4 linked regions of the Homo sapiens genome follow. The protein of the gene in region 1 purifies or fractionates together with the protein of each later gene. This does not show direct contact. Each region holds a gene or a part of one and is shown in the gene's direction. Other genes may lie near its edges. The genes, in order: ATP1A3, FAM162A, SLC25A22 and NDRG3.

Region 1 (7,040 bases):
ACTTCTGTGTCTGTCTCTCTTTTTTCCTGTCTGTCTGTCATTGTCTCTCTTTTCTGTTCTGTTTTTCTGACTTCTTCAACTTTCCCATCCTCATACCTATCTCTGACTCTGCCTTCCTTCAGCTTGTCCATTTATCTCCGTTCCTCTGAATCCACTGTGTCTTGGCTGGGCGCAGTGGCTCACGCCTGTAATCCCAGCATTTTGGGAGGCCGAGGTGGGTGGATCACTTGAGGTCAGGAGTTCGAGAGCAGCCTGGCCAACATGGCAAAACCCCATCTGCACTAAAAATTAAAAAAAAATTAGCCAGGCGTGGTGGTGGGCACCTGTAATCCTATCTACTAGGGAGGCTGAGACAGGAAAATCACTTGAACCCAAGAAGCAAAGGTTGCAGTGAGCCGAGATTGCGCCACTGCACTCCAGCTTGGGTGACAGAGCGAGACTCCATCTCAAAAATAAATAAATAAATAATAAATAAATAAATAAATAAATCCACTGCCCCAAAGTCCTTCCTCAGGTCTGCCCGCACGCCCTGCTGCAGTAGCCCCCTTCTCCCCTGCTTCTCCCAGAGGCCTCTTCCCCCAGCCCCTGGTCCTCTGGCTCTCCTGGTTGTGGGGCTGGCCCCTCTGTTTCTCTGTCTTTCAGGGATCACTTTGCCACTCCTCACACACCCTGACCTCAGCCATCGCTCTCTCTGCTCTTCCCAGGGATGCCAAGGCCTGCGTGATCCACGGCACCGACCTCAAGGACTTCACCTCCGAGCAAATCGACGAGATCCTGCAGAATCACACCGAGATCGTCTTCGCCCGCACATCCCCCCAGCAGAAGCTCATCATTGTGGAGGGCTGTCAGAGACAGGTGGGCTGCGCTCCCGCAGAGGAGGGGACGGGGCCTTGACTCCTGGGTCCTCACTGAGGCCGGGGCCTGGTTTCCTGGGTCTGAGGGAGGAGGGGCTGGGGGTCTGGACCCCTGGGTCTGAGAGAGGAGGGTCTGGGGGCCTGGACTCCTGGGTCTGAGGGAGGAGGGGGCTGGGGACCTGGACCCTTGGGTCTGAGGGAGGGGGCCTGGACTTCTGGGTATGAGGGAAGAGGGGATAGGGGCCTGAACTCCTGGGTCTGAGGGAGGAGGGGGTGGGGGCCTGGACCCTTGGGTCTGAGGGAGGAGGGGCTGGGGGCCTGGACCCCTGGGTCTGAGGGAGGAGGGTCTGGGGGCCTGGACTGCTGAGTCTGAGGGAGAAGGAGGCTGGGGGCCTGGACCTCTGGGTCTGAGGGAGGAGGGTCTGGGGGTCTGGACCCCTGGGTCTGAGGGAGGAAGGTCTGGAGGCCTGAACTCCTAGGTCTGAGGGGAAGAGGAGGTTGGGGACCTGAACTTCTAGGTCTGAAGGAGGAGGGGGCTGGGGTCCTGGGCTTCTGGATCTGAGGGAGGGGACTCTGGGGACTGGCCTCTGGGTGTCATCCTTACCCTCTCTCCCTCCAGGGTGCAATTGTGGCTGTGACCGGGGATGGTGTGAACGACTCCCCCGCTCTGAAGAAGGCCGACATTGGGGTGGCCATGGGCATCGCTGGCTCTGACGTCTCCAAGCAGGCAGCTGACATGATCCTGCTGGACGACAACTTTGCCTCCATCGTCACAGGGGTGGAGGAGGGTGAGTTGGCCAGGGGTGGCCCTGGAGACCAGGGTCACTACCGGAGGCCTGAGACCAGCAAGGGGAACTGGCCAGGGCTGCAGGGGGATGTGTGGCAGAGACCACAGGCCCCCTGGCCCTGGAGGAGCCTGAGCCTGTCCTTTTCTGTCTTCCTCCCCTGTGGGGTCGGGAGCTCCCCTGGGCAGGACTGAGCTGACACACTTCAGGGTCCCTGCGTCATCCAGCCCAGGCCCCATCTGGTGGGTGAAGCTGACTTGGAGGCTTTTTAAAGATATTCTCAGCCAGGGGCGGCAGCCACGCCTGTAATCCCAGCACTTTGGAAGGCTGAAGCAGGCAGATCATGAGGTCAGAAGATCGAGACCATCCTGGCTAACATGGTGAAACCCCGTCTCTACTAAAAATACAAAAAATTAGCCGGGCATTGTGGCGGTTGCCTGTAGTCCCAGCTACTCGGGAGGCTGAGGCAGGAGAATTGCTTGAACCCAGGAGGTGGAGGTTGCAGTGAGCTGAGATTGCGCCACAGCACTCCAGCCTGGGGGACAGAGCGAGACTCCGTCTCAAAAAAAAAAAAAAATTCTCAAGCCCAACCAGGGGGAAGCCAGGGACCCTGGGGGATACCCCCTCTGCCAGCCTGGGCTGGGGGTCAAGGGAGCTTCCCAGAGTGGACAGGGATGGCTGAGCCAAGTCAGGGGCCATGCTGTGACGTCCACATAGACTAGTGCCAGGGAGTCGCAGGCAGAGGAACCGGTACACAGGCAAGGCGGTGTGAGGGGCTGGGTCTGAGGCTGGTGCTGCTGAGCCGACAGGCACCACCTCCTGACAGGCCCAGACAAGGCCACAGAAGGGTTGGTTCACATTCAGATTTATTTTGATCATCAAATTAATTCATGATAATCATAGACAAATGCAGAAAAGCATTCAGGAAAAAAGTAGAATCACCCGTAACCTCGCCATCCAGAAATAATCACGGTTCATGCCTTGGTGGATTTTCTTCCAATTTCTCTCTCCTATTTGAAATGTCTCTGGTGTAAAAAGTAGTTCATGGTAAAAGAGAATTCAAACGGCAAAGCCGAGCCCAGAGTAACAGATTAAATGTCCTCAGCCCTTGTCTCCTATATCCCAGAGGAAACCATGGTTAACACCTTCTTATCTCCCAAGAGACATCTTTTTTTGGGGGCTGGGGGCGGGGATAGAGTCTCAATCTGTCACCCAGGATGGAGTGCAGTGGCACAATCACGGCTAACTGCAGCCTCCACCTCCGGGACTTAATCGATCCTCCTGCCTCAGGCCCCTAAGTAGCTGAGACTACAGGTATGCACCATCACACCTGGCTGATTTTTAAGATTTTGTAGAGATGGGGTTTCGCCATGTTGCCCAGACTAGTCTTTCTTTTTTTTTGAGACAGAGTCTTGCTCTGTCACCCAGGCTGGAGTACAGGCATGCAATCTCGGCTTACTGTAGCCTCCACCTCCTGGGTTCAAGCAATTCTCCTGCTTCAGCCTCCCGAGTAGCTAGAATTACAGGTGCATGCCACCACACCAGGCTAATTTTTGTATTTTTAGTAGAGATGGGGTTTCACCATGTTAGCCAGGCTGGTCTTGATCTCCTGACCTGAAGTGATCCCCGCACCTTGGCCTCCCAAAGTGCTGGGATTGCAGGGGTGAGCCACCTCGCCCAGCGAGGTCTTCAACTCCTGGGCTCAAGCAATCCTCCCACCTTGGCCTCCCAATTTGCTGGGATTACAGGCATGAGCCACCACGCCTGGCCTCCCCAAGACATCTATGCATACACAGTACACACACTGTCTCAGATACAGCCGTCTGCTCCTTCCGAATCTTGTGCATCATGCTGGAAGCCTGGGAGGCAGCTGTGAGCAGAGCAGACACCATCCCTGTTCTCACAGGGCTGGAGAGACAGCCTTAAACAAGTTAACAGATATGTAATTACAAATTGTGATATATGCCCCGAAGAAAGCAGGCCGCTGTGATAGATAATAGTGAGGGTCCTGCCCAGATGGGGTGGACAGGGAAGGCCTCTCTGAAGTGAGGGAAGAAATACCTAACTTCCGTCAGGGGCCAGGCACGGGGGCTCACGCCTGTAATCCCAGCACTTTGGGAGACCAAGGCGGGAGGATCGCTTGAGCCCAGGAGTTCAAGACCTGCCTGTACAACAAATTAAGACCTCAAAGATCAAAAAATTTTAAAAATTAGCAGGGCGTGGTGTTGCACACCTGTAGTCTCAGAGACTTGGGGGGCTGAGGCAGGAGGATCACTTGAGCCTGGGTGGTCGAGGCTGCCATGAACCATGATGGTGCCACTGCACTCCAGCCTGGGATAGAGCGAGATCCGAGACCCTGTCTCAAACAAACAAACAAAATAACTTCCAACGGGGGCATTCCAGATATACCCAAAAGTAAAGCAAAGGCACAGTGGGCCCCTGCGCCTCCATCCCACCTGCAGCGGCAGTCAGCGCACGGCACACCTTGTTTCTTCCCCACCACCTGGAACACACACTGGATTATGCTGATGCACATTTGTCACCATTTCATCCATAAATAGTTTAGGATGAGAAACCCCTAGTTTGTGGAGAAGAGCACAATGCAGGGAACGAGAATATCAGGTGGGAGCGGCCCAGGCCCTTATTGCTATGCAAGAGACATCAAAGCAATCAAAGAAGCCACACCACAGGCAGCCTGCTTCACCTTCCCTTCCCTCCCTCCCTCCCTTCCTCCCTCCCTCCGTCCCTGCCTGCCTGCCTTCCTTCCTTCTTTCCTTCCTTCCTTCCTTCCTTCCTTCCTTCCTTCCTTCCTTCCTTCCTTCCTTCCCCTTCCTTCCTTCCTTCCCCCTCCCCTCCCCTCCCCTTTTTTTGATGGAGTCTTGCTCTGTTGCCAGGCTGGAGTGCAGTGGCGTGATGTTGGCTCACTGCAACCTCCACCTCCCAGCTTCAAGCGATTCTTCTGCCTCAGCTTCCCACATAGCTGGAACTACAGGCACACACCACCACTCCCAGCTAATTTTTTGTGTTTTAGTAGAGATGGGGTTTCACCATGTTGGCCAGGATAGTCTCGATCTCCTGACCTCGTGATCCACCCGCCTCAGCCTCCCAAAGTGCTGGGATTACAGGTGTTTGCCACCGTGCCCGCCTGTTCTTTCTTAATGATTGACCTCATTGTTCATGGGCTAATCTTTTTACTTATTTATTTATTTAGAGACAAGGTCTCACTCTGTTGCCCAGGCTGGAGCGCAGTGCTGCAATCATCAGTCACTGCAACCTCGACCTCCTCAAGTGATCCTCCCACCTCAGCCTCCCAAGTAGCTGCGACCACAGGCTCGAGCCACCGTGCCTGACTAATGTTTATTTTATTTTATTTTATTTTTTTGAGATGGAGTCTTGCTCTGTTGCCCAGGCTGGAGTGCAATGGCACAATTGCGGCTCACTGCAACGTCTGCCTCTGAGGTTCAAATGATTCTCCTGCCTCAGCCTCCCAAGTAGCTGGGGTTACAGGTGCCCACCACCACGCCCAGCTAATTTTTGTATTTTTAGTAGAGATGGGGTTTCATCATGTTGGCCAGGCTGGTCTTGAACTCTTGATCTCAGGCAATCCTCCTGCTTCGGTCTCCCAAAGTGTTGGGATTACAGGTGTGAGCCCCAGCGCCTGGCCTGGATTAATCTTTATTTTGTTTACTTTAGACAACCTGTACTGGTTGAATATTTATTGAGATATGGCATGCATACAGTGAGTTGGGCATATTATATCTCATTAAAATATTCAACCAGACAGGGTGTATAAATTTTTACACATGTACACAGCCATGCAACCACCAGACCCCAGTCAAGATAGAAAACCATTCCAGCCCCCCATTTAGGTTTTGTCTGCTCTCTTCCAGTCTATATCCCTCCTCCTAGACATAACCATTATCCTGACTTTTAGCCCAGAGACGGGTGCTGAGCCTGCTCCAGTTGGAGTTGGATGCTAAGAATGCTTTTGTGTCTGGCTCGTGTCACTCAGCACGGGATCCAAGGTCCAGCTGTGGAGTTGTGTCCGTAGCTCGCCCCTTCTTGCTGTGTAGTATTTGACTGCATGGATGTACCGTGGTTTATTCATCCCTCACCTGTTGATGGACATGGGGTTGACTCTGGCTTTTGGCTCTGATGAGTGGTGCTATGGTGAACATTCTCGTACTTGCTTTTCGCTGGGCATAAACAGTCCTCCTCTCTTTTGGGTATAAAACCTAGGAGTCGGATTACTCGGTCGGTGGGGTGGGGGATGTTTGATAGCAACTCCGAAACCATCTTCCAAAGTGGTTATTTCAAGAATGTTTCCACAAAGGCGATGTGGTTGGATGTTTATGTGGAAAGGTAGGTGGGTGAGGGGCCAGGTGTGGAGACTTATGCCTGTAATCCCAGCACTTCGGGAGGCTGAGATGGAATCACAGCCCAGAAATTAGACAAGCCTAGGAAAAGTGGTGAGACTCTGTCTCTACTAAAAATACAAAAATTAGCTGGACGTGGTGGCGCGTGACTGTAGTCTCAGCTACATGGGAGGCTGAGGCAGGAGGATCACTTGAGCCTGGGAGTCGAGGTTGCAGTGAGCCGTGATCATGCCACTGCACTGCAGCCTGGGCAACAGAGTGAGACCCTGTCCCAAAAAGAAAATAATGGTGGGTGGGCTGGGGGGTAGAAAAGGACGCTGGACAGGCCGGGCGCGGTGGCTCACGCCTGTAATCCCAGCACTTCAGGAGGCCGAGGAGGGCAGATCACGAGGTCAGGAGATTGAGACCATGCAGGCTAACACAGTGAAACCCCGTCTCTAATAAAAATACAAAAAAATTAGCCGGGCGTGGTGGCAGGTGCCTGTAGTGCCAGCTACTCGGGAGGCTGAGGCAGGAGAATGGCGTGAACCCGGGAGGCGGAGCCTGCAGTGAGCCGAGATCGCACCACTGCACTCCAGCCTGGGCAACACAGCGAGACTCTGTCTCAAAAAAAAAAAAAAAAAAAAAAAGGACGTTGGATGAGGGCAGAGGAGGGGCAGAGGGAGTGGGGCTCCCTGGCATGGGCGCCTGCTCTGAGCCTGCCTGTGCCACAGGCCGCCTGATCTTCGACAACCTAAAGAAGTCCATTGCCTACACCCTGACCAGCAATATCCCGGAGATCACGCCCTTCCTGCTGTTCATCATGGCCAACATCCCGCTGCCCCTGGGCACCATCACCATCCTCTGCATCGATCTGGGCACTGACATGGTGAGCCCTGGCAGCCACCCTTGGGGCCCAGGAGGGTGGAGTCCTCCCCTCTCCGGCTCACCCGGCCTCCTCCGCCTAGGTCCCTGCCATCTCACTGGCGTACGAGGCTGCCGAAAGCGACATCATGAAGAGACAGCCCAGGAACCCGCGGACGGAC
Region 2 (7,040 bases), on another chromosome or scaffold:
GGTGAGTTTTCACACCTGTTTTCTCCTGAAAGAATAAAATAGATATAACTTTTAGGATATTGTATCTTTCCACAGAATGATTATTAGTTCAAAGGAATGGAATGACCTTACAAGAATGTTTCTTATTGAAAGAAAGTTTTGCTCCCCTAAACTCTGTTGACTGGTCAGATTTGAAAATGAATTTGTTACCGTCATTGTTACCAATGTAATGGACTATGGGCTGCCTTCCTTTTAGTTTAACCCACATCTCAGAGCATTAGAGTAGAGAGGTATCTTAGAAGTCAGGTAATTTAGTCCTCTAATTTTTACAGATGAGGAAACTTAAGGGCCAAGAAGGGAATCAGCTTGCCAAGGACCACACAGGTACAGACCTGGGACATAGCCAGTATCCCCTGGCTCCCATTCTGATTTTATTTCTACCACATTCTGCTACCTTATTCTTTTTGTTTGTTCTTGCTAACCAAACCTAAATGAGAACGTACGCATTTTAACTACCCCCACATTTGGCTTTACTTATTGCTCCTTTCCAGGTCTTGCCAAGTATTTATTGAGTACACAATGGATGCCCTGTGTGTATACTGTGAAGGCTCTAAAATGAATGGACTGCCCCACTCCTAGGGCTGATTTATTGCAATGAACAAACAAACATATATAATATACCATTGGCTTCAAGAATTCTGAGATTCTTGAAGGCTCCATTGAAATGAAGGGGTGTGAGAGTGATGTGAGCACATGTAGGGGCGGTAATGAGTTGTGAGCACATGTAGGGGCGGTAATGAGTCTGAAAAAGGATATGAGAGAGGAAAGATTACCTTAGGGATTTTGATCAGGAGGCAATAGGAGGTAAAGTGTAGTGTTTGGAGACGTTTGAACCAAATGAATTTGGACCAAAAAAACCTTTTAGCAGGAGAAGTAACACAAGAAACATTTCTGGAAAATTAACTCAGCAACTACATACCAGTTGAATTGCTGCTACCTATGAAGATATTACAGTAACTGATGTGTGAGGTGATGATGGAAATAACGAATATATTTAGGAAGTGTCTTGAAGAAAGGATGAGTTTGGAGATACTGAGTAAGGAAGGACTTAAAGACAAGTTTTTTAATGTTGAGGACTACAGAAGTATTGCCTCATTGTCAGAAATAAGAAAGTTGGAAAAATAATCAGAAACGCCATCAAAGATTTGTGTTAGTTTGGCAGAGAAGATGGTGCATTATTGAGTAGGTTTAGGTGGCACTGAGTTATAGGTTGTGAGAGGTTGAAGACCTGAGGGCAAAGGAAGAGTAAAGTTATGGAGATAAAGATATGGGAGCAATTAGTCTGGAGTTGATTTTTAAAACAGAATGGAGGAGTCCTTCCAGAGAGTAGCACAGAATAGAAGCAAGGACTAAGCCTTGGAGGTGTGACATGGTGTAAATAATAGGAACTGGGAAAGAAGACATTAAAGAAGATTGGTCATAGAGGTTGGAGATGAAGTGAGAGAATTTGGTGGTACAATGTAAGGAGGCATTGAATCCTTGTAGAAAGATGAGATCAGTCGAATCAAATGGCCACAAAAATGGGAAGAGTAGAGTCAGAAGGGCTAATGATGAGAATCTAAAAAAATGTATTCATGACCGGGCACGGTGGCTCAAGCTTGTAATCCCAGCATTTTGGGAGGCCGAGGTGGGCGGATCACGAGGTCAGGAGATCGAGACCATCCTTGCTAACACGGTGAAACCCTGTCTCTACTAAAAACACAAAAAATTAGCCGGGCGTGGTGGTGGGCGCCTGTAGTCCCAGCTACTCAGGAGGCTGAGGCAGGAGAATGGCGTGAAGCCGGGAGGCAGAGCTTGCAGTGAGCTGAGATCACAGCACTGCACTCCAGCCTGGGCAACAGAGCAAGACTCCGTCTCAAAAAAAAAAAAAATGTATTCATATGACTAGAAAGAGGTCACTAATGTTGGTAGAGTAATTTTAGTAAAATGATTGGAGAAGGAAACATTGTAGCAAAATAAAGTGTGGGTGGTGAAGTGAAGTAGTAGATACATGCCATTTATTCAATCATTTGAGCTATGAAAAAGAGGAAATAAGAATTTTATTAATAGTACCTGTTGAGAACAAGTGAATGCTTTGTCCAACATAGTGGACCTTCAGTGTTATTGTAGAGTAATAAGACAGAATTCTCAGTAACTACTAGTAGAAGTTACTGGAGAAGTAGTCAGCCTTTCTGGAAAGTAGTATAGATGGATAGATAGATAGATAGATAGATAGATAGATAGATAGATAGATAGATAGATAGATGAGATAGATAGATGGAAACTTAAAGGGGTTCATACCCTTTTACCCTTCACTTCCAGGATTTTATTCTAAGGAAATAATCAGAAATACCATCAAAGATGTATGTAGAGAACTGTTCATTGAAACATTACTTATAACACTGAAAAATTGGAAAGAAATCAAGTTGTAGGGAATTACTACATTCAGATTATAGCTGTGTGTCGGGTTTTATACAGCTATTAAAAGTATTAATATCTTGGAAAGTATTTGTGACATAGCAAGATACAGTATTATCTGATTATGAAAAATGTATATGTTTTATGTAAGTATAGGAAAGGTCTGAAAAGAAATATTAATGCACCAAGTTGTTATCCCTAAGTGCTATGATTATGAGTGCTTTTATTTTTCTTCACATCTTTTTTTAACTTCCAAATTTTCTGTAATGAGCAAGTGTTACTTTTATCATTTAAAGTTTGTTTTACTAAAAGCTTTTTACATAACATGGTGTGTAACAACTTGGTGGTACAAAGGTTTTTACATAGTGAGACCCGATCTCTACAAAACAAATTTTTTTAATTAGCTAGACATGGTGGCATCTGCCTGTGGTCCCAACTACTCCAGAAGATGATACAGGAGGATCGCTTGAGCCCGGTTCAAAGTTACAGTGAGCTATGATCTCTCCACTGCCCTTTACCCTAGGTGACAAAGTGAGACCTTGTCTCTAAAAAAAAAAATAAGTTTTTTAGTTTTGATTTTAAAGATGGGGGAGATAACATTTGGCAGGAAAAAGGCAGTGGAAAATAAGGATAAGTTTGGTACGACATCCCTCAGCAGAGGGATTACTACTTAAGAATAAAGGAAGACTGGTATTTCTTCAAGCCTGCAGGGAAGGATGAGAAAACGGATATAGGGAGTCTGTTTCTGTCACAAAGCCCAGGTCAACAGCTAAGGCCTAGAGAGTTTCAGATAGACACTCTGGGGAGTGGGTTGTAATATTGATTCTCTGATTCCCAGAGAGTTGTCATATCTCCAGTCACATCACCTATGGTTTTCTCCAAGAGGACCTTGAAAGATTCTGAGAAAGAAAAAGCATCCCTACCTTTCCTCACTGTCTATCATGGGGTTGGAAAGGATATTTATGGAAAGGAGGGGACTACCAGGAGAGAAGCTGGTACTTCAACCAGCCTCACCCTGGCTGACCACTATAGCCTCCAGCTAGCAATGATATTTCTAAGGCACTGGTTTTCAGATTATGGGTCCCCCATAGCAGAAGTTTCACCATTACCTGGGCAATTGTTAGAAGTGCACATTCTCAGGTTCTGTCCATACTGACTGTATCAGTTGGGTCCAGTAATCTGTTTCACAGGGTCCCCCAGGTGATTTCGATAGATAAAAAAGTTAAGAACCTTTACTCTTAAGATTAGCCGTTTGCCACCCAGAGCCTTAGAGACAGCTGTGAGGCTTCATCTTAACTTCCTGCTAGGGCCCTGGAGACACAGAATTGGTCAGCCAGGGACAAGCTGTTAAGTCCAGCTAGAGGGTTAAAGGGCTGTTTTTCTTTTGGTTTGTATGTTTTTAATCGTGATCCACCAGAGGATGGAAAATTTCTGGCTTGGACGTCTGGTCAATATATTCTGTCTCTTTGAGAGAAAACGAAGGTCTTAGTAATGATATTAAAGTTTGTTTATGCTTTCATGTTGTTATAATTGCAAAATAAAAACCAAGACCACATCAAATACTTCAGACATTTTTTAGCGATAACTTTTTAAAATTTAAAATTTTATTTTATTTTATTTTTGAGAGAAGGTCTGGCATTATCGCCCAGGCTGAAGTGCAGTGGCATGATCTCAGCTCTCTGCAACCTCTGCCTCCAGGGCTCAAGCCACCCTTCTGCCTCAGCCTCCTGAGTAGCTGGGACCACAGGCACATGCCACTGCGCCCAGCTAGTTTTTGTATTTTTTGTAGAGGTGGGGTTTCACTATGTAGTGATAACATTTTTAAAAATATTTTTAAAGCAAGACCTCATCTTTAAAAAAATATATTTACATTAGTCTATTATTCTAATATCTATAATAAGATAATATGTGTGTATGTTTTAATCAGCATTTATACTGTAGGGAGGTAAAAGTTATTAGCATACAATATGAAGTTGTAGTAAGAAAAAGTTGGGAGATACAGTCTGATCTAGGTGAACCTCTCATGTCTCCAAGTCCTTACCCTCCATAACTACCTCAGTACCTCTCTCACATCAAATTCTACTTGTCTTCCCATTATTCATTCTGTTCTGGCCATACTGGCCTTCTCTTTATGGGCTCTAGAATCTTTTAGGGTCTTTGCATTTATAATTCTTTCTGTTTGGAATATTCTTCCACCAGATAGCTGCATAGCTAGCCCTTGCTTCCCTTCAAGAGTGACATTCTCACAGAGGACTTCCTAACTACTCTATGTAAAATTTCATACACAGCCCATTCCAAACACATACTTCATGTCCCCATTGTTTATTTTTTTCTCTCTGGCACTTAGTATCTAACATATGTATAACTTTCTCCCCAGTAGAATGCAAGTTCTATTGGCACAGATTTTTATCTTTTTTATATATTGCCTAAAACAATGCCTGGCACATAGGAAGTACTTTGTTGAATGAATTACTCCAACATACATCGATGTCACTGATAGTAGGTATACATGTTAGCATTTTTTGCTTTATTATTTCTCAAACTGAGCTAGCTGAGAGGCAGTTTGTCTTCTGTTCTCCTAAACTGCCTTTGTTCTATAATTAGGAGGAATGGGAAAGGACAGCTGTCTTAGGAAATAATTATTGATTCTTTTTCTGTTTAAAGAGCAGAGTCCTTCTAGCTTGCTGCCGGTTAACCTTGTTCCTTTTGTAAGTGCCTGCCAAAGGAGGAATGGGATAGCATTGTGTGAGATGGGGCCTTGTAGGTCACATTAAACCAGTGGTTCTCTGGGGAGATGAAAAAGTCCTGGAGATGGATAGTAGTAATAGTTGCACAGCAGTGTAAATGTACTTAATGCCACTGAATTGTACACTTAAAATAATTAAAATGGTAAATTTTATGTTATGTATATTTAACCACATCTTAGGGGAGAGAAAAGCCTAGGTTCTCAAAGTATAGTCCAGAACCAGCATAGCAGCATCACCTAGGAACTTGTTAGAAATGCGAATTCCCAGCCTCCATTCCAGAACTGTGGATGCAGAAACTGGAGGTAGACAGCCTCATGATTTGTGTTTTAACAAGGCATTCCTCTGATTCACACCAAACACTAAAACACTAAAATTTGAAGATCACAGGATTTAATAATTGTGTCTTAATCCTGAGTGCTATGAAAATCTATTGAAGAGTTTCATAGACTTTTCCCATGGCCTCATAACTGCATAATTAACTTTGTCAGAAATCCTGACCACATTAGGGGTAAAATTGAAAAGTGTTCTAGAAGTTTTATCAAAGTTAATGTTTTACATAATATTTCAAAAAAAAAATAAACTTAACAGTTAGAGAGCCTGCTGTGTTTCAAGCATCTTACCAGATGCTCCCATATTTGCTTTTCCATTTAACCCTCAAATCAACTTTGGTACAAGAAACACTGCATTATCCACATTTTAAATGAGGAAACAAGCTAAAAGCAGTTAATTTATCTCCTTTCCACTAGGTGGCACTGATGTTGTGTTTGCCAGATCCAGGCAAAGCTTTCTGGCATTTATAGCCCTAGAAAACAAAATAAATGAGGCCTTTTATGAAAAAGACTGTGTGCCAGGTAACCACAAATAGAGATTCCAACTTCTGGTGTGTCAAGAGTAAGGACCTCTGAAAATCCATTTTTACCCAAAAGCAATGATAACACTGCCAGAAGTTGGCAGAAGCAACTTTTCCAGAACTCTGGAAAATTACCAGGCATTTGTGACAATCTGAGGAGCATTTATCCAAAAAAAAAAGCCTGAAATCGTGGTAGGACAGCAAGTTTTGTGGAGTTTTAACTTGCTTTATTCCTGTCTTCTTTCAGCTTCACAATAGTCTTGAAAACCAACAGCCTCACAAATCACAGTTACTTTGAAAACCAGCAGCCTTGCAGGCACTGAAGAAGGCAGAATGGGTTTAAGAGTTTTCCAAAACTTCCAGCTGCAGAGAATTGTTACTATTTGACTTGTCTGACAGTTCGCTGGAAACCCCACTCACAGGGCTTATCTTTTTTCACCTGACTTGGAGTTTATTCACTGCAAACAGTGTTTTCCCTGGTGCATTTGTTGAAAATAATCAGCAGCACTTGTTTGACATAACATGGAGTGGGTAACAGCTGGGTCAAACAAGAAGCTGGGGAATGAGATGTCCATCCTGACATCTGGAAAGCTCTGACATATTTCTAGAATGTAATATGTGTAAGGTTGGACACATTTTCCAGGAAAAACCTGAGAGGTCTCTAAGCTCTCACCTCACATTTAGTCTCTGTCCGAGCACGAATGGAAGGTGTGTTAGGCCAGTCTCGCATTGCTAAAAAGAAATACCTACGACTAGGTAATTTATAAAGAAAAGCAGTTTAATTGGTTCATCGTTCTTCAGGCTGTACAGGAAACATGATACTGGCATTTGTCAAGTTTCTAGGGAGGCCTTAGGAAACTTACAATCATGGTGGAAGGCGAAGGGGGAGCTGGCATGTCACATGTCCAGAGCAAGAGCAAGAGAGATCAGGGAGGTGCCACACACTTTTAAACGACCAGATCTCATAAGAACTCACTATCACGAGGACAGCACCAAGAAGGATGGTG
Region 3 (5,307 bases), on another chromosome or scaffold:
CGGCTTCAGTCTGGGGTGGTGGGTGAGGGGCTGCGTGAGAGAGGGAGGCTGGGGGAGGATTACTCTTCGGGTGGCCCCACCCTCACTCATTCCCATTCCCTCATCCTTCTAGGACAGAAGTGGCGGTTGCTGACGCCTGGAAATTCCCCTGAAGGTGGAGCACCACCCAACCCCCCTGGGTCCCACCCTCCCTCAAGGCCTCCTCCACCTCCACCTCCACCCCGCCTGGCCTGGCGTCCACCTCTGCGGCTCCTACCTGGGTGCAATCGAGTTAAATGGCTGATAAGCAGATCAGGTCAGACTCCAGTCCTGGCTGCGTGCCTCACCCCCACCCTGACCCATGGTCAAGGAAGCCGGTCCTGACACCCCTGTCCACACAGCCTGCCAGCCAAGCTCATCAATGGCGGCATCGCCGGGCTGATCGGTGTCACCTGCGTGTTTCCCATCGACCTGGCCAAGACCAGGCTGCAGAACCAGCAGAACGGCCAGCGCGTGTACACGAGCATGTGAGTGTGCCGGGCGGTCGCGGGGAGTGGGCCCAGCATGTGGCAGCAGGAGAGGTGGGGGCTCTGCTCCTGTGCCCCCCACCCTGTTTGACAGAAGGGAAACGGGAGGCAGGCGGGCCTAGGGGAGATCCCACGTGGGTCAGGACTGGGGTCGGGGCTGGGCTGAGGACTTGGCCTCTTCTATCAGCCCTAGACAGTCCAGGGACCCTGGCCTCCGGCTGGCCCCAGCTGGCCCTGGCTCACCCTGTCCCCTTGGCCACAGGTCCGACTGCCTCATCAAGACCGTCCGCTCCGAGGGCTACTTCGGCATGTACCGGGGTGAGGTTTGGCTCGGCTGGGCTCGATATGGGCAGGCCTGGGTAGCGCCCGCGAGTCGTGGCAGGGAGCGGTGGGGGAGGCAGGGCAGGGCGGCCAGCCTGGGCCTGGTGTGTGAGCGTGGACGTGTTTGTGGGGGCTGTGCCTGTGCAGGGGGGACTGGATCTCTGGTGAGTGGTAGTTCTCAGCCTCTCCCGTGGCAGCTCCCCACCCCCACTTAGTGCCTGGTGCGTGGGATGCCATGGTACATCTGTCTCTTCTCTGGTGGCCACAGCTGCCTCTGCCTTCTGGGCCAGGCTGGACCCCGTTTGTGGCTGGGGATGGGAGGGAGTAAGGGGCATTACCGCAAAGCAGCTTAGGACACAATCCAGAGCCTAGATTTGGCAGAAGCTCTCCAGCCCTGAGCCTTCGGCACTGAGATGGGGGCTCTCCACAGCCTCCCCCGAGCTCTGGCCCAGTCCAGACCACACACTCCTGTGACCTCTGGCCCCAGCCCCCTGCCAGCACAAGCACCATCTGTCCTCCAGGGAGGGAGAGGTATCCTAGGGAGGCCTCAGGGGCTCCGGGGCAGTCCTCATGCCCTGAGCAGCAAGATGCTGCCCAGAATCAGAGACAGATGGAGCTGCAGTGGGCATGGGAGAGCCTGAGCCTGAGGTGCTGCCCCATCCCTGCCTGGCCCCGCCCCACCTGGCACACACCAGGCCCAAATGTGGGTGAGAGAACAGATGGTGGCCAGGAGTGACTGGGACAGGGTTTTGCCAGCCAGGAGGCAAGTCCTGGCCAAGCGCCTCCCCACTCAGGCCACCGAGCATGTCCCCCCAGCTGACCCCCTGCCCCACAGGAGCTGCTGTGAACTTGACCCTCGTCACCCCCGAGAAGGCCATCAAGCTGGCAGCCAACGACTTCTTCCGACATCAGCTCTCTAAGGACGGGTGAGGGTTCTGCCTGGCAGACACTCGAGGGGTCTTTGGCTTCAGATAAAGGATGGGTCCACCCTGCCAGCTGGGTCCCACCTGGGGGCTCTGCCTGTCTTCAGCCCCTTGCTTGGGGCTTCTTTGACCTCGTGGGGCACCCTCCCTCCTTTCCCCTGACCAGGGGAGCAAAGCAGATGTCAAATCAGTGGGGCTCTGGCTTGGTAGCCCTTGGCCTGAGGGCACTGACCAGCTCCCCCATCACTGGAGGGGGACTGCAAGGGCAGCCCCTTTTTGGGGCACTTGACCCCCAATTTCCCATTTTCCTTTGTCGCAGACAGCCCCACTGCCCTCCCCAGGCCCCTGCCTGTGGGGCCGTCTGTCCATCGGTCTCCTCCCTGCCTGCTGCTGCAGTGGCGGAGGCTGGGGGCTGTACCCCCACAGGCCTGCATCTGCCTCCACGGCTCCCACCATCCTCTGCGCCCAGGCATGGTGGGCAGCCCCGAGGGTGGCAGGTAGACCTGTCTCTTCCCACTTACTGCGGCCCCGCCCCTACCACAGGCAGAAGCTGACCCTGCTTAAAGAGATGCTGGCGGGCTGTGGGGCTGGCACCTGCCAGGTGATCGTGACCACGCCCATGGAGATGCTGAAGATCCAGCTGCAGGATGCAGGGCGCATTGGTGAGGGCGGGGGGAGGGGGAGGAGAGGGCAGAGGTGCGGGAAGAGGTGAGGGCGAGGGGAGGGTGGGGACGCAGGGAGGGCCAGAGCGTGTCCCCTGCCCAGTTCGCACAGAAGAGGAGACAGCAGCCTCTTTGTCCCCAGCCGCCCAGAGGAAGATCCTGGCTGCCCAGGGCCAGCTCTCGGCCCAGGGGGGTGCCCAGCCCTCAGTGGAGGCTCCAGCTGCCCCTCGGCCCACGGCCACCCAGCTGACCCGCGACCTGCTGCGGAGCCGTGGCATTGCCGGTCTCTACAAGGGACTCGGGGCCACGCTGCTCAGGTAGGAGGCACAGGGCAGGTGGGGGGAGGGAAGGGGGAGGCCGGCCTGCCCACCCCACCACCTCCTGTCCCCACGGCCACCTCCCTCCCCACAGGGATGTCCCCTTCTCTGTGGTGTACTTCCCGCTCTTTGCCAACCTGAACCAGCTGGGCCGCCCGGCGTCCGAGGAGAAGTCGCCTTTCTACGTGTCCTTCCTGGCCGGCTGTGTGGCTGGGAGTGCCGCCGCTGTGGCCGTCAACCCCTGTGATGGTCAGTGCATGGGATGGCGCCCGGCTGGGGATGGGGCGGGACTGAGCCCTTGGCCAGGCTCACACTGACCCGAGCGCCCCTTGCAGTGGTGAAGACGCGGCTCCAGTCACTTCAGCGAGGCGTCAACGAGGACACCTACTCTGGGATCCTGGACTGTGCCAGGTGGGGAGGTCCCACGGCGGGTGGGGCCTGGGGGCCTGCGTACCGGGCTGACCCTTTCGTCCTTCCTCCACAGGAAGATCCTGCGGCACGAGGGCCCCTCGGCCTTCCTGAAGGGCGCCTACTGCCGCGCGCTGGTCATCGCGCCCCTTTTCGGCATCGCACAGGTGGTCTACTTCCTGGGCATCGCGGAGTCCCTGCTGGGGCTGCTGCAGGACCCCCAGGCCTGAGCCCAGCACCCGCTCCACCCCAGCCAGCTGGGCAGGGCCGGTGTGGGGCTGGAGCCAGGCAGCTAGCCCAGGACGGAGCAAGGGAAGACCCCTCCCCAGCCCTCCCGTCGGCAGGGGCAGCAGGGGGCAGGGTGCAGGGTCCACATAGGTGGTGCACACGCAAGCCCCCCGGGGTGCTGCCTGCACCGTTGGGATCAATGTCTCATTTATGTAGAAAATGCAGAAATCTTTACATTCCTCAAGCTAGCCCCTGCCCCAATCCTGCCCTGGCCTGAACACCCCCAGGGACAGAGCTGGTCTCTGGGCTGGGGGCCCCCGGGCCTGGGCCGGGCAGGCTGGACCATACCCCCAGTCCACCAGCTCCAGTCTCCACAGCCATCCTGGCCCACACAGGCACCCCACACAAACCTATTTATTGAATCTGCTGGACCCAAGCGGCTCTCCAGCCCTTCCGTCCTTCCCCAGCCGCTCTTGTCGCCTTGGCAGGACTTGACTCTGCCTCCCTGGCCAGCCTTGCAAGAGGACTGGGGTCTCCTGCCCTCTCTGTTGAGCCAGGAATCCCAAGTGAGGGGTTGCCCTGAGGTCTGACTCTTGGGGCAAGCCCGCCACCCACTGTGGGACTTTCTGGTGGGCTCCTCAGCTCCCACCCCAGGCTGGGGCCCAGATTGTGAGGTCTGTGTGCATGTGTGTGTGTATGTGTGTGTGCATGCGTGTGTGTGTTGTGGGGATCTGGCCTGGCCCTTGGGGATGGGGCTGCTGGGGACTGCCCCCCTTCCCGCCGTGGCCAGGCGCTCTGTGTGCTGTGTGTGCCCCAGGCTCTGTTGACCCCGTCCAGGAACTAACTTACCCAGCTTGGTCTCTCCTGAGTCCTCCACCCTGGCCTGGGATTGGCCAGGGAGCAGGGCGGGCATTGGGACCAGTGTGGAGCCTGAGGGTGCCTGCCCTGCTCTGGAGGGAGGGCCAGGAGCTGCCACACCCCCAAGTCCTCTCAGGGCCCACCCTCCTTTTTCAGCCTCTGCATAAGGCCCCTGGGTACACTGCAGAAGCCCCATCCTTCCCGCCTCCGGGCATAAGGCCCCTGACCACACTTCAGAAGCCCCATCCCCCCTGCCACCGGGCGATCCCTGCTGTGAGCCGAAGCTCTCCCTGCCCCGCCCTGGCCATGTGATCGTGTTGGTGACAGACCCTGATGTGCTGGTGCTGTGTCCCCAAAACCGGGGCCCTCCACAGAGGCCCCTTCCCAGCGACACTACCTGGGGCTCAGGCCTGGACCCCCCCAGTTCACGGTTGCTCCTGGGAGCTGCCCCTCCCGTCACATCAGAACCTTGGAAGCTGCTGCTGCTGCTTACAGAATTATATTTTTTTCTTTTGAAGAGTTTTAAGAAGTTGTAACTTTTTGTGTCTTGTCATGTCAGAGAATAAATAAATATTCTAAGTAGATGCTGCTGTCTGTCTGGGGGTCTGTTTGGGGGCGGGGGAGGGCAGTCCCCTCTTCCCATAACTGGCTCCCTTCAGACTGCAGGGCTAGGCCTGCGCACCCACCCACCGACCCCTCACCCACCGACCCGTCACCCACCGACCAAGGGGCACCCTGGCCTAGAGGGGATGCTGAGCGGGACCCGCCTCCTGCCTCTGGCAGTCCCAGATGGGACTTGGACCCCGCAGTTGCTCTCTCGGACCCTAAGTTTCTACCCCTGGATCTAAGGCGGAGCTGGGTTTGCGGATCCCACGGTTCCCGGCGGGGCGGGGCCCGGTCGCCCCTCCCCCTCCCCGCCCTCCTGCGCCGGGAGCAGTGCATTGTGGGAAACTCCCGAGCTCTCCTCCGCGTTCGCAGCCGCCGTCATCCCGCGGAGGAGCGCGCAGCCCCGGGGAGGCCGGAGGACGCGTAAGGCGGGGGGCTCCCGGCGGGCGGGGCGGGCGGGGCGGGCGCGGCGTCCTGC
Region 4 (7,040 bases), on another chromosome or scaffold:
TGAGCCCCGGGGTTCAAGACCAGCCTGGATAACATAGGAATACCTTGTCTCTACAAAAAATTGAAAAATTAGCCAGCCAGGCATGGTGGTGTTCACCTGTGGTCGTGTCTGCTTGGGAGGCTGTTGTGGGAGGATCACTTGAGCCCAGGGGATTGAGGCTGCAGTGCCTGGATGACTGAGCAAGACCCTGTCCCCAGAAAGAAAACAAACAAACAAAAAAACCTGTCATTTTTGTGTCCTTCCTCAAAACTCCCAACTACTTAGGCCCAAATTCAGATCTCTCTGAGCTTTCCTGGGAGCATCTCCCCATCCTTAGCTCTCAAACTAGTAATGGAAATTTGACTATCTGTGTAACTGTTTATTCTGAGAGGCTGTCCTGGCAGATAGAGGTGTGGGGTGATTGATTGGCTTTGGCACTCTCAGCTTCCTCCTACATCTGCTTCGCAGGGCAGAGTCATAGGCTCCCTACCTGTTTGTTCCCTGGACGGGTGCTTATTGAGAAGACCTTAGGAGGAGTGAGCACACACTCTGTGGAATGCTAATTCTTCCCCTATCCTTTCACTCATCTCCAGAGCTGCCTTTGGCCAGTGACTGCTGGGAAATAGACAATTGCAGACAAATAATAGCTAATATTTAAATAGTACTCAAACCGTGTTCCAGACCCTGCTTTAAATGCTTTACATTTGTTAACTCATTTACTCCTCACAACCCTATGGGATAAGTTTACTATTATTCCCATTTTATAAGTGAGGAAACTGAGGCCCAGAAAAATTAAGTAACATGGCTAACATTACATAACAAATAAGTGGCAGAGCTAAGATTTGAACCCAGACAGTCTGGTGCCAGAATCTGACTCTAAAATGCAAATTGGCCAGTGGTCAGTTTATATCCAACAAGATTTGTATCCAGTTCCTTTTTTCTATTTTGTGGACAAATGGTTCCACAGCACACCATCCCCTTAAGTGTTCAGGCAGAGGCAGGCTGACTTCCCTGTCAGATGTAGAACAGATCCTGCCTCATATATAAGTGGTCATCTTAGGATCAATTCCATCTCCAATTCTGTAATACTTTTTCTTTCTTTCTTGAGATAGGATAGTGCTTTGTTTCCCAGGCTGGAGTACAGTGGCGTGATCATGGCTTACTGCAGCCTCAACCTCCTGGGCTCAAGTGATCCTCCCATCTCAGCCTCCCTACTAGCTGGGACTACAAGTGTGTGCCAACACGCCTGGCTAATTATTGTTATTTTCTGTAGAGACAGGGTTTTGCCCTGTTGCTCAGGCTGGTCTCGAACTCCTGGGCTTGAGCAATCTGGTTGCCTCAGCCTCTGAAAGTGTTGGGATTACAGGCGTGAGCCAACGCTCCCAGTCGGATGCTTACTACTTTTCTAGGAATTCTGATCTGGGTCTGTTCCTGGGCCTGCTCGAACATCTTAGGATCAGATGGTTCATATTATGAACCAAATTCAAATACAATAAAATAACCATGCCAGACACAGTGGCTCACACCTGTAGTTCTAGCACTTTGTTAGGCTGAGGTAGGAGGATCACCTGAGGCCAGGAATTCAAGACCAGCCCTGGCAACATAGCGAGACTCCATCTCTACAAAAAATTGAAAAATTAGCCAGGCATGGTGGCATGCGCCTGTAGTCCCAGCTACTCAGAAGCCTGAGGCAGGAGGATAGCTTGAGCCCAGGAGTTCAAGGTTACAGTGAGCTATGATTTCACTACTGCACTCCAGCCTGGGTGACAGAGTGAGACCATGTCTCTTAAAAAATTAATAATAATAATAATAATAATAATAAAATTTTAAAAATAACTATGTTATTCTATGCCTAAGTGAAACAAATAAGCATTCATGCTAAGGGTTTGTAACTGTGTGCCCATACCTAGAAAAGCTTTATTTTTGCATTTAGTTGCCTAAATATAGCAGTAGACCAAGACCCCCTTTCTGAGTTGACTCTTACTGCCGGAGGTTTACTGAGCCTGGACTCCAACTGAAGAGATTGTTAGAGGTTTGGAAATACCCTAAGAGAGAACCATGTTACTAGTTCTTTTCATGTGGCACCCTCTGGTCCCAAGGGCTGCTTGTTAGGATATAGAAACCGTGGATTATTTTACTTTCTCCTTAGCATGGCAGTTGTAGAGAGTTACACAATATGCCACAATCATTTTCAGGGTACCACATCACCTCCTTTGAGCCTTTGGTAAAAGGAAATGCTTTTATCTAAGATTTTTTTTTTTTTTTGAGGCGGAGTTTTGCTCTTGTTGCCCAGGCTGGAGTGCAATGGCATGATCTCCGCTCACGGCAGCCTCCGCCTCTCAGGTTCAAGCAATTCTCCTGCCTCAGCCTCCCAAGTTTCTGGGATTACAGGCATGTGCTACCACACCCAGCTAATTTTGTATTTTTAGTAGAGATGAGGTTTCTCCATGTTGGTCAGGCTGGTCTCGAACTCCCAACCTCAGGTGATCTGCCCACCTCGGTGTCCCAAAGTGCTGGGATTATAGGCATGAGCTACTGCGCTCAGCCTTTTATCTAAGACTTCTGGACCTTTCCAGCTGTTCTAGCAACTGGGAATTGTGAGTGCTTTCTAATTCAGGAGATATCCTTCTGGATTGCAGGTATCAGTACCCCACAATGGATGAGCTGGCTGAAATGCTGCCTCCTGTTCTTACCCACCTAAGGTAGGTTCATTCTGCAGTCTTTCATGCAGTTTTTATTGACTTTCTATGGTGAATTATTTAGTGTCTGTTTCAGAGGATATGATGGTTAGGAAAAATATTATCACTGTCCTCCTAGAGCTTAGTGGGGTAACAAGTAAGCAAACAAATAATAAAGTTCTATAAAATAAGTCAGTGGGGGTGTTGTGATAGAGAATAAGGGTGGGATCTACATTAGTAAGGCAAGTTAGGGAATTCCTCTCTAGGAAGGTGGCACACACGCTGAGACCTAGAAGATTTAAAAATCTACCTTGAGCTGGGCCAAGTGGCAGGAAGATCACTTAACAACAGCAGTTCAAGGCTACAGTGAGTTGTGATCCCACCCCTGCACTCCAGCCTGAGTAACAGTGAGACACCCTGTATCTAAAAAATAAAAATAAAGCTGTTTAAATTTTTTTAAAAACGTTCATCTCACTGAGAAGAGAATGGTTTGGAGAAGAATCAGAGAGAGAAAGCAGGGAGAACAGTTAAACTATTAACAATAGTCCAGGCAAGAGATAATGATAGCATGGTACTGGATGCTGCTGTTGGGGGATGATTGAAGTAGATAGTAGTAGGTAGATGGATATATTCTGGAGATAGACTCCACTGACTTGCTGATGGGTTGGATACTGACAGCTACCAAGGATAACTCCCAGGTTTCAGTTATATATATTTTTATATGTGTGTGTGTGTGTGTGTGTGTACATATATGTGTGTGTATATATATATGTATATATACATATATATACATATATTTATTTATTTATTTATTTGTTTTGAGATGGAGTTTCACTCCATCACCCAGGCTAGAGTGTAGTGGTGCGATCGCAGCTCACTGCAGCCTCTGCCTCCTGGGTTCAAACGATTTTCCTGCCTCAGCTTCCCATTTAGCTGGGATTACAGGCACAGGCCACCATGCCTGGCTAATTTTTTTTGTATTTTTAGTAGAGACGGGGTTTCATGATGTTGGCCAGGCTGACCTCGAACTCCTCACCTTCAATGATCCACCTGCCTTGGCCTCTCAAAGTCCTGGGATCATAGGCGTGAGCCACTGCCCCCGGTCTCAGTTATATTTTATTTAACCATTAAAACCAACTTGAAAGTAGTTGGTGGGATCCTTGTTTTTTTTGGTTTTGTTTTTTGTTTTTTTTGAGACAGAGTCTCACTCTGTCACCTAGGCTGGAGTGCAGTGGCGCATTCTCGGCTCACTGCAAGCTCCACCTCCCGGGTTCATGCCATTCTCCTGCCTCAGCCTCCCGAGCAGCTGGGACTACAGGTGCCCGCCACCATGTCTGGTTAATTTTTTTTGTATTTTTAGTAGAGACGGGGTTTCACCGTGTTAGCCAGGATGGTCTCGATCTCCTGACTTCGTGATCCGCTCGCCTCGGCCTCCCAAAGTGCTGGGATTACAGGCGTGAGCCACCGTGCCCAGCCTTTGTTTTTTTTTTTAACAGGCGCACGCCACCATGCCCGGCTAATTTTTTGTATTTTAGTAGAGACGGGGTTTCACCATGTTGGCCAGGATGGTCTTGATCTGCTGACCTCGTGATCCGCCGACCTCGTGATCCGCCTGCCTCGGCCTCCCAAAGTGCTAAGATTACAGGCGTAAGCCACTGCGCCCAGCTGAGATCCTTGTTTTATAAATAAGGAACTGAGGCTCAGAAAGTTAGGGGAAAGAAAAAAAACACTTGCCCAAATTCTCACATCTAATAAATATCAGAGCCAGGATTTCAACCCAGGTTGTATGCTTTCAATTATGCAATGCTGCCTGCAAATGAAGTTGACTCTGTCAGTTGTCGTTATGTCCCATTCACAGCCTGAAAAGCATCATTGGAATTGGAGTTGGAGCTGGAGCTTACATCCTCAGCAGATTTGCAGTAAGTATGTAGAGGATTAGCCTCAACATCCTTGAGGCAGTGCCTGGGTCACAGCTATTACTGCTGTGTTAAATGACCAGGCAGTATTCTGGGCCTTATGTCAGTTTTTCTGTAACTTCTGTCAGCTTTAGATACAGGTTGTATAAAGCCTAGCTTTGTACTTAACAATACCTGAAAAATCACAAATGGGGACAGTACATCATCAATAAAAAGCAAGTCCTAGATGCTGCTTATAATGGAATTTTGTGCGGCCATTAAAATTAAGTTTACGAAAAGCTTTATAATGATACATGGTTTGCATACATTATAATGTTAACCAAAAAGTTAGAATATAGATTGACATAAAGTTTGTCATAGCCATAGGAAAGGACTGGAAGAAAATGTACCAAAAAATATTAATGGATTGATATGTGGTAAGATAATGTGAAATTTTTATTTTCTGCTTTTTATAATTTCTCTGCTTATCAAATTTTCTATCGTGAATATAATCACTGTAGTCAGAGAAAAAAAGTAAGCCAGGGACCAGGCACGGTGGCTCACGCCTGTGATCCTAGCACTTTGGGAGGCCGACACGGGTGGATCACCTGAGGTCAGGAGTTCGAGACCAGCCTGGCCAACATGGTGAAACCCCGTCTCCACTAAAAATACAAAAATTAGCTGGGCGTGGTGGTAGGTGCCTGTAATCCCAGCTACTCAGGAGGCTGAGGCAGGAGAATTGCATGAATCCTAGAGGCCGAGATTGTAGTGAGCCGAGATAGCATCACTGCACCAGCCTGGGCAACAAGAGCGAAACTCTGTCTCAAAAAGAAAATTAAATTAAATTAAATTAAATAAGCTAGAGAGCTAGAGCTCCTATTATAAATTTTTTTTTTTTTTTTTTTTGAGATGAAGTCTTGCTGTGTCGCCCAGGCTGGAGTGCAGTGGTGCAATCTCGGCTCACTGCAACCTCCGCCTCCTGGGTTTAAGTGATTCTCCTGCCTCAGCCTCCTGAGTAGCTGGGATTACAGGCGCCCACTACCACACCCAGCTAATTTTTGCATTTTTAGTAGACATGGGGTTTCGCCATGTTGGTCAGGCTGGTCTCTAACTCCTGACCTCGTGATCCACCCTCCTCAGCCTCCCAAAGTGCGGAGATTACAGGCGTGAGCCACCGTGCCCGGCCAGACATTATTATCATTATTTTTTTTTAATACGTCCTCAGTGATAGGAGAGTCTTCTGAGGATGATACAGACTGTTCAGATGGTTTCAGAAAAAAAAACTTCAGAAGCCTCTGTTGAGAACAAAGATATATGAGCATGGAGCAGCTGCTTGTGCCAAGCGCACTTTCCCAATGAGGAAGATCCACCATGAATTGAACAACTGCATATAGATCTTTGCAAGACAAGATAATTTGATAGTAAAATAAGTAATTTGATAGCAAAACCAGAAACTGGTTTCCATATGCTAAGTCAGATTTCAAGAGCTATTTTTCCACATGTTCTCCCTCTTTGTAGTCTTACTTTCAAATGTGAGGCATTAAGGCATGTAAGTAAGAATTGATCAACCATGTTCCAACTGTTTAGAAGAACTGTGGGAGTGTAGCTTTCATACTATTGTCTTTGCCTCATCTTTCAGCTCAACCATCCAGAGCTTGTGGAAGGCCTTGTGCTCATTAATGTTGACCCTTGCGCTAAAGGCTGGATTGACTGGGCAGCTTCCAAAGTAAGTACCACATGAAGGTGTCCATCGGCTTATCTTGGCCCATCTCAAAACAGCTTACCAGTTTTTCATTGAGGTATATATACAGTTAAGGGTAAAAATGTTAAGTATATAGCTTGAAGAATGTTTACATATAAAATCACCATCCAATCAAGATATAGAATATTCCCAGCTCACTAGGGGATTCCGTTGTATCTTTTCCTAATTGATACTTCCTCTCCTTCCCAGAAATTACCTGTTCTGACTGTTGTTACCAGAGATAAGTTTTATCTGTTTTTAAACAGTTTTATCTGTTAAATTGGAATCATAGAAACTGTATTTTTTTTTTTTTTTTGAGATGGAGTCTCACTCTGTTGCCCAGGCTGGAGTGCAGTGGCATGATCTTGGCTCACTGCAACCTCCACCTCCCGGTTCAAGCAATTCTCTGCCTCAGCCTCCCGAGTGGCTGGGATTACAGGTGCCCACCACCATGCCCGGCTAATTTTTTTGTATTTTTAGGAGAGACCAGGTTTCACCATCTTGACCAGGCTGGTCTTGAACTCCTGACCTTGTGATCCACCCGCCTCGGCCTCCCAAACTGCTGGGATTACAGGCGTGAGCCACCGCACCCAGCCTGTCTGGTTTCTTTTCTTTCATCACGGTGTCTGTGAAACTCATCCAAGTTGTATGTAGCAGTAGTTCTAAATTACAGTTTGGACTGGGCACGGTGGCTCATGCCTGTAATCCCAGCACTTTGGGAGGCAGAGGCGGGAAGATCACCTGAGG

Evidence for each region.
Region 2: the proteins of ATP1A3 (region 1) and FAM162A purify together in Homo sapiens (co-immunoprecipitation; 2 studies listed by BioGRID and IntAct, with this or other methods). This does not show direct contact.
Region 3: the proteins of ATP1A3 (region 1) and SLC25A22 purify together in Homo sapiens (affinity purification with mass spectrometry; 2 studies listed by BioGRID and IntAct, with this or other methods). This does not show direct contact.
Region 4: the proteins of ATP1A3 (region 1) and NDRG3 purify together in Homo sapiens (co-immunoprecipitation; 2 studies listed by BioGRID and IntAct, with this or other methods). This does not show direct contact.

What each region holds. Positions count from the first base shown.
Region 1 is NC_000019.10:41,970,231-41,977,270, reverse strand, and holds part of ATP1A3 (sodium/potassium-transporting ATPase subunit alpha-3), read left to right. Parts: intron 1-704; coding exon 705-855; intron 856-1,473; coding exon 1,474-1,642; intron 1,643-6,728; coding exon 6,729-6,883; intron 6,884-6,962; coding exon 6,963-7,040. UniProt on the Homo sapiens protein: This is the catalytic component of the active enzyme, which catalyzes the hydrolysis of ATP coupled with the exchange of sodium and potassium ions across the plasma membrane.
Region 2 is NC_000003.12:122,387,153-122,394,192, forward strand, and holds part of FAM162A (protein FAM162A), read left to right. Parts: intron 1-7,040. UniProt on the Homo sapiens protein: Proposed to be involved in regulation of apoptosis; the exact mechanism may differ between cell types/tissues.
Region 3 is NC_000011.10:789,975-795,281, reverse strand, and holds the end of SLC25A22 (mitochondrial glutamate carrier 1), read left to right. Parts: exon of another isoform or gene 1-18; intron 19-112; 5' UTR 113-275; coding exon 276-295; intron 296-380; coding exon 381-506; intron 507-693; coding exon of another isoform or gene 694-768; coding exon 769-824; exon of another isoform or gene 825-829; intron 830-1,662; coding exon 1,663-1,753; intron 1,754-2,293; coding exon 2,294-2,412; intron 2,413-2,515; coding exon of another isoform or gene 2,516-2,554; coding exon 2,555-2,729; intron 2,730-2,823; coding exon 2,824-2,978; intron 2,979-3,064; coding exon 3,065-3,140; intron 3,141-3,213; coding exon 3,214-3,367; 3' UTR 3,368-4,807; downstream 4,808-5,307. UniProt on the Homo sapiens protein: Mitochondrial glutamate/H(+) symporter. Responsible for the transport of glutamate from the cytosol into the mitochondrial matrix with the concomitant import of a proton. Plays a role in the control of glucose-stimulated insulin secretion.
Region 4 is NC_000020.11:36,680,054-36,687,093, reverse strand, and holds part of NDRG3 (protein NDRG3), read left to right. Parts: intron 1-2,618; coding exon 2,619-2,681; intron 2,682-4,515; coding exon 4,516-4,576; intron 4,577-6,191; coding exon 6,192-6,278; intron 6,279-7,040.